Homo sapiens: one gene and its partners. The protein of the gene in region 3 purifies or fractionates together with the protein of the main gene of each other region. This does not show direct contact. Each region holds a gene or a part of one and is shown on either strand. Other genes may lie near its edges. The genes, in order: FEZ2, SNX16 and KIF6.

Evidence for each region.
Region 1: the proteins of KIF6 (region 3) and FEZ2 purify together in Homo sapiens (affinity purification with mass spectrometry; 3 studies listed by BioGRID and IntAct, with this or other methods). This does not show direct contact.
Region 2: the proteins of KIF6 (region 3) and SNX16 purify together in Homo sapiens (affinity purification with mass spectrometry; 3 studies listed by BioGRID and IntAct, with this or other methods). This does not show direct contact.

The regions. Positions count from the first base shown.
Region 1 is NC_000002.12:36,596,235-36,599,983, reverse strand, and holds the start of FEZ2 (fasciculation and elongation protein zeta-2), read left to right. Parts: upstream 1-1,815; 5' UTR 1,816-1,841; coding exon 1,842-2,107; intron 2,108-3,749. UniProt on the Homo sapiens protein: Involved in axonal outgrowth and fasciculation.
Region 2 is NC_000008.11:81,840,833-81,844,581, forward strand, and holds the start of SNX16 (sorting nexin-16), read right to left. Parts: upstream 1,354-3,749; 5' UTR 1,290-1,353; exon of another isoform or gene 706-1,289; intron 1-705. UniProt on the Homo sapiens protein: May be involved in several stages of intracellular trafficking. Plays a role in protein transport from early to late endosomes. Plays a role in protein transport to the lysosome. Promotes degradation of EGFR after EGF signaling.
Region 3 is NC_000006.12:39,724,032-39,727,780, reverse strand, and holds the start of KIF6 (kinesin-like protein KIF6), read left to right. Parts: upstream 1-2,372; 5' UTR 2,373-2,470; coding exon 2,471-2,536; intron 2,537-3,749.

The DNA of each region.
Region 1 (3,749 bases), on a different chromosome or scaffold from region 3:
CTTGCCGCTAAGGGTGAAGGACCAAGGCAGGCGTCCCTGCGTGGTCTGACACCTTTGAAACGTGGGTGAATAATCAGAGGCGTCCCTGCAATGATTAAACACCAAGGGAAGGCTGCCTTCCCAGCCCGTGACCGGCGCCGGAGTTTTGGGTCCACGGATAAAACGTGTCTCCCTTGTCTCTACCAGAAAATGAAAGGAACTGAAATTAAGAGAAGGGAGAGATTGAAGTGCGGCGCCAAGATTGAAAGGAGAAAGAGGTTGAGGGATAGTGAGGGAAGCTGGAGAAGACAGTAAAAAGAGGCCGCTTACTGGATTTGAAATTGGTGAGATGTTTTTTGGGCTGGTCGGTCTGAGGACCTGAGGTCGTAGGTGGATCTTTCTCATGGAGCAAAGAGCAGGAGGACAGGGGGATTGATCTCCCAAGGGAGGTCCCCCGATCCGAGTCACGGCACCAAATTTCATGTGCGTCCGTGTGAAGAGACCACCAAACAGGCTTTGTGTGAGCAACACGGCTGTTTATTTCACCTGGATGCAGGCGGGCTGAGTCCGAAAAGAGAGTCAGCGAAGGGAGATGGATTATCATTAGTTCTTACAGGTTTTGGGTCAGGCGGTGAAGTTAAGAGCAATGTTTTGCGGGCAGGGGTGGATCTCACAAAGTACATTCTCAAGGGTGGGGAGAATTACAAAGAAACTTCTTAAGGGTGGGGGAGATTACAAAGTACATTGATCAGTTAGGGTGGGGCAGGAACAAATCACAATGGTGGAATGTCATCCTTAAGGCTATTTTTACTTCTTTTGTGGATCTTCAGTTACTTCAGGCCATCTGGGTGTATATGTGCAAGTCACGGGATGCGATGGCTTGGCTTGGGCTCAGAGGCCTGACAGCTAGATTTTGTATTTTTAGTAGAGACGGGGTTTTACCATGTTGGCCAGGTTGGTCTTGAACTCCTGACCTCAAGCGATCCGTCCACCTGGGCCTGCCAAAGTGCTGGGATTATAGATGTGAGCCACCTCGCCTGGCCTACTCCAATTTTTTTGTATTGTAGTAAAATAAACATAAAATTACTATCTTAACCATCTGTAAGTGTATAGATCAGTGGCATTCAGCACATTAACACTGTCGTGGAACCATCACCACCATCCATCTCCATAACTCTTTTCATCTTGCAAAACTGAACCGCCCAATCACACTTAGTTTTTATGAGGTCTAAACAATTTCTTGTTACTCTTATCACTCCGACATTGTAAGCCCTGTGTATGGGGCACCCATGTATTAGTTATAACATACACATAGGGTATCTACTATTAGGCATTGCTCTAAGTGCTTTGCAAATGTTAACTGGCATAATTATCTTTGTATGTTCTGCAGGATCTAGCCAGTGCTTTGCACGTGAGAGGTAAAATATTTGAGGAATGAACTTCGGTACCACCTAAACATTTCCCATTGACTCTGGCTGTTATTCTGGTTGGCAAGTTAGGAAAGGAGCAGGTTACCTTGGGGAAAACGACTTTCGGGGCGTAATCTGATATTAGGTCGTAAGTTTAAAGAAGTCCTTTATTTTAGCCACATTTAGGCCAAGTTGCTAATAAGGGAAGCTAACAGGGAAGTTATTCCTAAATGATAGAGAATATAGGAAGTGACTCAAGGCAGTTAAGGTCTTGGCTTTCTAGTAGCACCGCGTTCAACTCCAGGAAGACTCAGGCCACCGGAGACCCAGGGTTGGGACAGCCTGGGATCTGTCAGCACGGTAGCGGGCGGGGGCGGGGCTTCGGGCCGGGGCGGGGCCGGGCTGGGCGGGCTGGGCCGGCCTGGGCGGGGCGCGCGACTGCTCCGGGCGGCGATGGCGGCGGACGGGGACTGGCAGGATTTCTATGAGTTCCAGGAGCCGGCCCGGAGCCTCCTGGACCAGGAGAACTGTAACGCGAGCCCCGAGCCTGGGGCGGAGGCGGGGGCCGAGGCGGGTGGGGGCGCCGACGGTTTCCCGGCCCCGGCCTGCAGCTTGGAGGAGAAGCTGAGCCTGTGCTTCCGCCCCTCGGATCCGGGCGCCGAGCCCCCGAGGACGGCCGTGCGGCCCATCACGGAGCGCAGCCTCCTGCAGGGGGACGAGTGAGTGCGGGGCCCCGGCCGGGAGTGGGCGGGAGCCTCCCCTACCCCTCGCCCGACCGGCAGCCCTACGGCCGCAGCTCCTCCCTGCGCCCTCCTTCCGCCCGGACGCGGGAGTCCCCGCCCTCTCGCCTCCTTCCTCCGGCCGTCGGCCTCGGCTCGCCCAGCAATTTAAATCCCCTGCCCCCCGCCGCCACGAGCCCTGAAAACCTCCGCCTCGGTACCTCCCGCCCTCCTTCCTGCAAACCAAACCCTCGTTTGTATTAGAAGGGAATCGCCCATGCAGAGCCCATAGTTAGAGACGGCACCTCCTGGGGCACCTCCTGGGGCACGTGTGTCGCCATTCATTCACTCAAGTCGCATTTATTAAGCACCTGCTGAGTGCCAGGCGCTGCTTCGCACAGGGAACACCAAAACGACTGGGCACTGTCCCTCCCACTTAGGACACAACGTAGGATGGGAGATAGATTTGTAAACAAATACATGTATGGATGTAATTAGCGCTGCAATGGTTATATGTACCAAATGTGAGAGACTTAAAAGCGTGTGTCTTGGGGAGAGTAAGGAACGACTTTATAAAGAAATGTGCAAACGAGATCTGACTGATGAGTGGGAGTGTGCCTGGCAGGTGGAAAAAAGTCTAACGTTCTAGGTGGAGTATATTGCCTGTGCATAAGTACCAACGTGCGAGGCAGCATTTAGGGCACAGGAATCTGTGGGACCCACCCGGGAGCCCTGGTAGAGTGCGAGCCGCCACAGAGACGAAAACGAAGGGCCCTGCTTACTGATGGTAACGATCGCATGGTCTGGTGGGGAGACCAAGGCATACACAAGTAATATTAATAATTACAGAATCACCTAAGAGCAATGATAGGAGGTTCACGGGGTTTTATCACAGCTGGGAGAGGTGAGGCGCAGAGTTCCTGAGGGCACTTTTTAAACCACCTGAGCCGCAATTATAATTTGGTTAAGTAAGAGTTGTAATTAGGTACCATGGTTTTACCCCCAAAAGATGGTAAATAGGAATGGTGAGAGTAAAGGGACTTGAGCATGTTGTGTATATAGGGGGAGAGGAGCCTCCGGAGAGGCTGAAGGTAAAATGAGTGGAATAAGATTGGGCGCGGTGGCTCACACCTGTGATCCCAGCACTTTGAGAGGCTGTGGTGGGAGGATGGCTTGCTTCCAGCAGTTCGAGACCAGACTGGGCAATATCGTGAAATCTGGTCTTTACAAAAAAATTAAAAAAAAATTAGTGAAGTCCGGTGGCGCATGCCCGTGGTCCCACGGACCCAGCTGCCCGGAGGCTGAGATGGCAGGATTGCTTGAGTCCTGGAGGCGAAGGTTGCAGTGAGCCATCATCGCACAACTGCACTCCAGCCTGGGTGTCAGAGCGAGACTTTGTCTCAAAAATGAGGACATGGGAAGGAATGGATTTTCAGAGCATTGATGGGATGGAGAGACTCTTAGAGGTTAGGGAAGAATTTTTGAGAGACAGGACAGGAGTCACGGGCACGGAAAGGAGTTTCCAGCCTGATTGTCTCCTTTCCTTTGTGAAACAAACAGATTTATCAGGAATAAGGTAGGAAGCTTGTAAAGACAGCCTTGGGAGTGGGGCCTGTAAACATGGCTGAGCAGTGGTGCAGGC
Region 2 (3,749 bases), on a different chromosome or scaffold from region 3:
TATATCTTGTGTCAGAATAGTATCATAACACAAAGAAGAAATGGTTTACTATTACTTTGTTAAATAATAAACTCATAAGAAACTGTAACAACTACAGACCAACAAAATGACAAGACTACACACAACAATAACTGCCCAACTTTTCATACGAAACTCTACTGGTGGGAAAGGTAAGAAATGAGTCACCTGGACTTGGAAAGATGCTGAAATAAGATTTTTAACTCTGGGCTGGGCGCTGTGGCTCACGCCTGTAATCCCAGCACTTTGGGAGGATGAAGCGGGTGGATCGCCTGAGGTCAGGAGTTCGAGGCTAGCCTGGCCAACATGGTGAAACCCCGTCTCTACTAAAAATACAAAAATTAGCCGGGCATGGTGGCGCAGGCCTATAATCCCAGCTACTTGGGAGGCTGAGGCAGGAGAATCGCTTGAACCCGGGAGGCGGAGGTTGCAGTTTGCCGAGATCGTGCCATTGCACTCCAGCCTGGGCTACAAGAGGAAAACTCCGTCTCAAAAAAAAAAAAAAAAAAGATTTTTAACTCAAGTGGCTCTCGGCAACATTTCCCCATTATCAAAGATTCATGAAACTTTAGCTGCTGATTCACCGCTCCTCGGTTCCGCCTGACGGCCTCCCCAAAAACAAGTAAGTCTGAAATCTCAACCTTCTCAAGGTCCGAGGGATCTACCTGGCCTTTGCCACTCTACTACCTGAGGCCGCCTGGCTGGGGGGAGGTCGCATATCAATACATATCAACACAACCACTGACGTCCGAAGATGTGAGCGCTACCCAAGCGTTAAAAAAACAAAACAAGCAAACAAACAAACAAAAAAACGTGCTGTGCTCATTAGGAGCGTCTTCGCCTCTACCCTGATGCGGAGTTGCTCCCAGGACGCTCAGTTCATTCTCACTCTGGAAAACCTCAGGTGAGGTGGCCCGACTCTGAGCAACCCCGTGGGCGGGAGGAAAGAGGCAAATACCAGGCACAGTTCGACCCTCGGAAGGTAAGGCCGGGGTCTGCGCCGGTCACGGGTCTTCCGCACTGCAGGCGGCGAGACCCGCAGCTCCCTGGGATCACAGACTCTCCCGCCTCCGCTGACCGGTGCGCGCCCAGCGCCTCCCAGACGCACAGTGGGGTCGGCGGTGGCCTGAAGGTGGCTGGGCTTCCTGCGGCGCCTCTCCACTCTCCCGCGGAGCCCCTTGCCGCCCGCCAGACATCAAGGTTGCAGGTGTCACCCGTACGAGAACCCGGGACAGCGACCGCCTGTCCTGAGGTAATGACCCAGTCTTTACCTCAGCCCCCTCGGCGATCCCGAACGAGCGCGCTTCCCGGTGACGGTTAAACCGGACTCTCCTTAACCGCAGCTTTTCGCCTCCTCCCTCAGCAGCGAGAAGCCTCACGTGACACCCCCGCCCCAAAAGCAGCTGCTCCCCGCCTCAGCCAGTCTCTGCCCGGGCCCAAGATCCCTGCTGTGTGGAAGGAGGGGCCGAACTGGGCGGGGGGGGGGGGGGGGGGAGAGAGAGAGAGAGAGAGGGAGGGAGGGAGGGAGGGAGGGAGAGAGAGAGAGAGAGAGAGAGAGAGAGAGAGAGAGAGACAGAGACAGAGAGAAAGAGAGAGAGAGAGGGCAAGAGCGAGAGACAGAGAGAGAGAGAGAGAGAGAGAGAGAGAGAGAGAGAGAGAGAGAGAGAGAGAGAGAAAGAGAAAGAAAACGAGCGAGGGAGAGAGCGAGAGCGAGAGAGAGAGAGAGAGAGCGTCACACACACATCTCTGCCGGAAGTGATGTCACGGCATGGGCGCCCGCCCACCGGAGGAGCGACTGGAGTTGATCGGCTGGGCGCTCAGGTAGCGAAGATAAATGTAATCTTGTGGCAGGAAATCGACATTCTCTGCACTATCTTTAGTTTTCCAACTGAACTTCTGAGAAATGGAGGCTACAATACCTAGTTTGCCAAACAGGAGAAGACTACAATTCCCAGAAGGAACTGCGACCAACATTGGTCCGTGCTCATACTTTGCATCATGGGACTTGTAGTCATCACCAGCTTGCGCTGATTCTAACAGGTTATAGATTGTTTTCTAGAATTAGCAGCGCTTTAAGGGATGACAATCGATTAGAAGAGTAGGAAGATAGAACACTGCTTAGTAGCTGATCCGTTCTACATAATTCAGAAGTTCTCATTGGCAGAGAACCCCTGAAATTCTGTAGTGTCTTTTTACTATCCGGTGAGCAATTTGATCCCGATGATGGAATATTAGCCTTGTTAGACATGCGCTTCTGAAGACCTGTGCAGTAGGGAAAGCCGAGTTTTTTGATAGGCAAATCCCAAGATTCAGACCGGTCTACAGGTCTGTTCATCATTAGAATCAGATAATGTGGTTGAAAAATCATTCCACGATTTCTAAGGCTTTTGTATAGTCCCAATGTTACCCATGGAGGGTCTTGACTACAAGTCATCCAGGTTCTTGGTTTTTTTAACAAAGAATTGGACAAAACGCACAAAGAAAGCAAGGAAAGAATGAAGCAAGGAAAGCAGAGATTGAAATGACTGTACACTCCACAGAGTGGGAATGGCCTCCAGCCAGTGGCTCAAGAGCCCTGGTTACAGGATTTTCTGGAGTTTAAATATCCGCTAGAGATTTCCCATTGGTTACTTGGTTTACACCCTCTGTAAATTAAGGAGTAGCCTGCAACCAATCAGAGGCTAAAGTTAAGTTACAAAGTTGTACTCCTATGGAAATGAAGACTAGGCCCAGATACCAAGGGCCTAGAAGGTTGGGCAGGGGGTTGCAAAGGGAATAGCCTCTGGTCTTTTTGTTACTTGGGCTTGGAAAGTTGGAGTTTTCCTTTTGATTTAGTTCTAGGAAGTCAGCGTGAATGGGCCTTAGGTTCCCTGCCTCCGGACCCTATTCTACTGCCCGACTAAGAGTGAGAAAAGGTGATAGTGGTCATTTTGAAATGAAGGTTGGAAAATAGTCTGGTTTGTGACATGATGATGGTTTTGGTTTAAGAGATTCTGCCCTTTTAGTGTGAATGAAATAAAAATAGAATTCTGTAGAAACAATGTTAGGTAGGAGAATAGGGTCTGGAAACAGGGGACCTAAGGCTGATTCATGCTGACTGATATCAGAGGCGACTCCATTTTCAACCCCTCTTTTTTCTGCGTGGCAGTTGCTGCGTGGCAGTTGCAACCCTCCTTTCTTTGGGTGGCAGTTGAAAAATGAAAGAACCTCTGATAGAGCCCCTCCCTCAACCAATCAGACTGGTTGAGGGCCTACTTTTCACTCTGATTGGTCTCCTTCCACAACCAATCAGACTGGGCATAGGCCAATGGGAACCCTCTAGAGGGTATTTAAGCCCCAGAAAATTCTGTAGCTGATGCTCTTGAACCCCTTGACTGAGTCTGTTTTCCTTCTGTGGAGTATACTTTCATTTAAAATAAATCTCTGCTTTCCATGCCTTGTTTGTGTGTTCTGTCCAATTCTTCGTTCAAAACACCAAGAACCTGGACAACTACCCTCAATTGGTAACATATTTTGGTGAGCCAGCCAGAAGGTAAGCCCAAAGTTTGGGATTTGTATTTTTCTTTTTCCTCTTTCTCTCTCTCCCTTTTCCTTTCCAAGCTGGGATCCTTGATGGACAGTGCCTAAGCATGGAGGCAACTGCAGGTTTCTGGCCAGGGCCACTCTCTGGTGAAACTAAAAGGTCCATGTGGAAGCACCTGACTGCCACCACCTGGTTCAGGTGAGGAACC
Region 3 (3,749 bases):
CTTGTTTTCTCATCAGTGATGTTTGAGAGTTCTAGATGCTCTGCATCCATGTCGGCACTTAGTTTTGTCAGTTTTATTTTCTTATTTTTCGCCATTCTAAGAGATGTGTAGTGGTATCTCATTGTGGTTTTAATTTCATTTCATTAATGATTAATGATATTGAGCATATTTTTCATGTGCTTATTTGCCATCCATAGATCCTCTTTGGTGAAGCGTTTGTTCAAATCTTTGCACCCTCCCTTCACCTTAAACAAATGAATTGTTTGTTTTTCTATTATTAGGTTTTAACAGTTTGTATATATTCTGGATGCAAGTCCTTTATCAAGATACGTGTTTTGCAAAAGTTTTCTCCCAATCTGTAGTTAGTCTTTTTGTTTTCTTAAGTGTCTTTCAGCTGGGTGCAGTGGTTCATGGCTGTAATCCCTGCACTTTGGGAGGCTGAGGTGGGTGGATTGCTTGACCTCAGGAGTTCAAGACCAGCCTGGGCAAGATGATGAAATCCTGTCTCTGCAAAAAATACAAAAATTAGCTGAGTGTGATGGCACATGTCTATAAGCCCAGCTACTTGTGGGGCTGAGGCAGGAGAATCGCTTGAGCCCAGGAGGTTGAGGCTGCAGTGAGCCGTGTTCATGCCACTGCACTCCAGCCTGGGGTACAGAGCAAGACCTTGTCTCAAAAAAGAAAGAAAGAAAAAAGGGTGTCTTTAATAAACTTTTTGTTTTGTAAAAAATAATACAGAGAGAACTCGTATACCCATCTCCCAGTTTTCCCCAGTGGTAATGTTTTGCATAACTATAGTACAATATAAAAATCAGGGAATTGACATTGATACAATCCATCAATCTTATTCAATTTTATGTGACTTTTGCCAGTTTTACATGTGCTTATTTGAACATGTGTGTAATTTGTTCTATGCAATGCTATCACATGTGTAGATTTCTGTGATCACCATCACAGTCAAGATACAGAACAGCCCATCACAAGGATTTCTTTTATAACCATACCCTGCACACCTCCCTGGCAATAGTAATAGAACCATACGGTAGTTAGCTTTCGAGTCTGGCTTCTTTCATGAAACATAATTCCCCGAAAATTCAACCAATTTGTTACGTGTATCAACACTTCCTTCCTTCTTAATTGCTGAATGGTATTCCAGTTATTTTAAACTATCAGCTGAAGAACATCTGGGTTTTTTTTCCAGTTTGGGGCTATTACAAATAAAGGTGCTAAAACTATAAACACACATGCGCAGGTTTTTGTGTGAACACACGTTTTCATTCATCTGAGATAAATGCCCAAGAGTGCAATTGCTGTGTCTTAGAGTAGTTGCACCTTTAGTTTTGTAAGAAACTGTCAAACTATTTTCCAGAGTGGCTGTACCTTTATACAGTGTATGTTTTACATTATACATTCCTACCAGTAAAGTGCAACTGATTCAGTTTCTCCACATCTTTGCTAGCATCTGGTGTTGCCACTTTTTTTTTTTTTTTTTTTTTTTAAGCCATTCTGATAGATGAATAGTGATGCCTCATTGTGGTTTTAACTTATATTTCCCACGTGGATAATAATGTTGACTATCTTTTCATGTGCTAACAGTGTTTGAAGAGCTCATCCTTTCTTGCCGTGACCATTGTGTGGGAAACAGTCCCCTTCATCCAGTTTTATCCTTTTCCAAAACAGAGCTAGCCCCACTTCTAATTCCATCATGGCATAGTTTGTATTCCTTGGTTTTGATTTCCTGTTGAAAATCTGTCTCCTTGTCACTTGAGAGACCTTGTGAAGGAAAAAAAAAATCTGTCTCCTTCTTCAGACTGTGATCTCCAAGTGGGCTGGAGCAGTTCTGCAATCTTGGCTCACTACAGCTTCGACCTCCCGGGCTCAAGCGATCCTCCTGCCTCAACCTCCCGAGTAGCTGGGATACAGGCGCGCCACCACGCTTGGCTAACTTTTGTATTTTTTGTAGAGACGGAGTCTCACTATGCTGCCCAGGCTGGTCTCAAATTCCTGGGCTCTAAGCGATCCTACCACCTCGGCTTCCCAAAAACTGCTGGGATTACAAGCATGAGCCACCACGCCCGGCCCAGTGCTGTATTTTTTTTTAAAGGCAAGGGCATGGAGAATAAAATGGGTGAATGAGCGGGGCGGGGCAAGGCATGGTGGTTGTTCCCCTTTAACCACACGGTCCAGGCCGGGTCCGGCGCTAAACCCAGAGCCCAGACACTCGCTCATGCGCATGCGCAGCGCTCTCCTCTCCACCCCCGCCCTCCCCTCCCTAGCCCCGCCCCGTAGTGGCCTCCTTCCGGTCGCGACCAATTAGAGGGAGGAGGCGGGATCCTGGCTGCCAAGGTGCTCACTGGGTAGTGTCCCTAGCTACTGTTGCTAAGACTGTGGGTCGCCGGAGGTGGTGGGAGTTAGTTTTGGCAGCCCGGGCCTGAGAGAGGTCAAGGGTCATTGCAGAGCCAGGGAGGAGATGGTGAAGCAGACTATCCAGATATTCGCGAGGGTGAAGCCCCCTGTCCGGAAGCACCAACAAGGGGTACGGGCTGGAGCCTCCGGGGCGCCGGCGCGGCGGGGCCTCTTGGGCTGGGGTCGGGCGGCGGCACGCGAAGGGGCTGGGCGGAGGTGAGGGGCTTGCTGGTGGGCGCCGAGGCCGCCCGGAATCCCGCACACACTGACCGAGGAGCCCTGCAGCCGCGAAGACCCCCGCGCACTGCTGTCAGCTACGCGACCGACAGCCAGGCCACTCCTACCTGGCACAGCGCAGACCCGGCAGAGAGCCATTTTTTTTGCACCCAGGCACACGTGTTCACGCGGGGGCAGACTAGTGCATGTTCAGTATGCCTGTATAGTGTGCGCTTCAACTACACATAAGCACTTATTGCACCTTTCTGGGAAACTCACGCAGCACCGCACATGCAGATACACTCAAAGGTACATTTTGGCACTCGGGCAAAACGTGCAAGCAAGAGATGCGTGTTTATGTACCTCTGAAATAATACAAATATAGATAGACACAAATGCACAAAGCATACACATATGTAGTACTTTGCACCCAGTGGGGCCTCAGTAATTAGTTGACTGTTGTTATTCTCCAACATAAACGTGAACCTTTACATATACTCCTTGTATTAATAGATATAGGTAGATGCTTAAGCATCCTGACCCAAAGAATACGCATGTGTACTTCATTCAGAAACAATTAACTAAATATTTACCAGGTGCTTCCTCTAGTGTGCTAAATTCAGAAAGGTATAAAGAAGGTTAAGACATTGCCCTGACTCTGAGCAATGATACTTTGTATGCACCTTTTTTTTTTTTTTTTTTTTTTGAGACGGAGTCTCGCTCTGCCACCCAGACTGAAGTGCAGTGGCGCGATCTCGGCTCACTGCAAGCTCTGCCTCTTGGATTCACGCCATTCTCCTGCCTCAACCTCTCAAGTAGCTGGGACTACAGGTGCCCGCCACCACGCCCGGTTAATTTTTTGTGGTTTTAGAAGAGACCGGGTTTCACCCTGTTAGCTAGGATGGTCTCGATCTCCTCCTGATCTTGTGATCCGCCCGCCTCGGCCTCCCAAAGTGCTGGGATTACAGGCGTGAGCCACCGCGCCCAGCACTTTTTATGCTTCTTAAATATTTCAAAACATCCTCTCTTCTGCCTAGAAGGGAGCATAGTCATTCTTATGTATCTTGAGAAATGGCCACCTGACAGGTGCTTTATCTGCATTATCTCTCATTCTCACAAGAACCCTG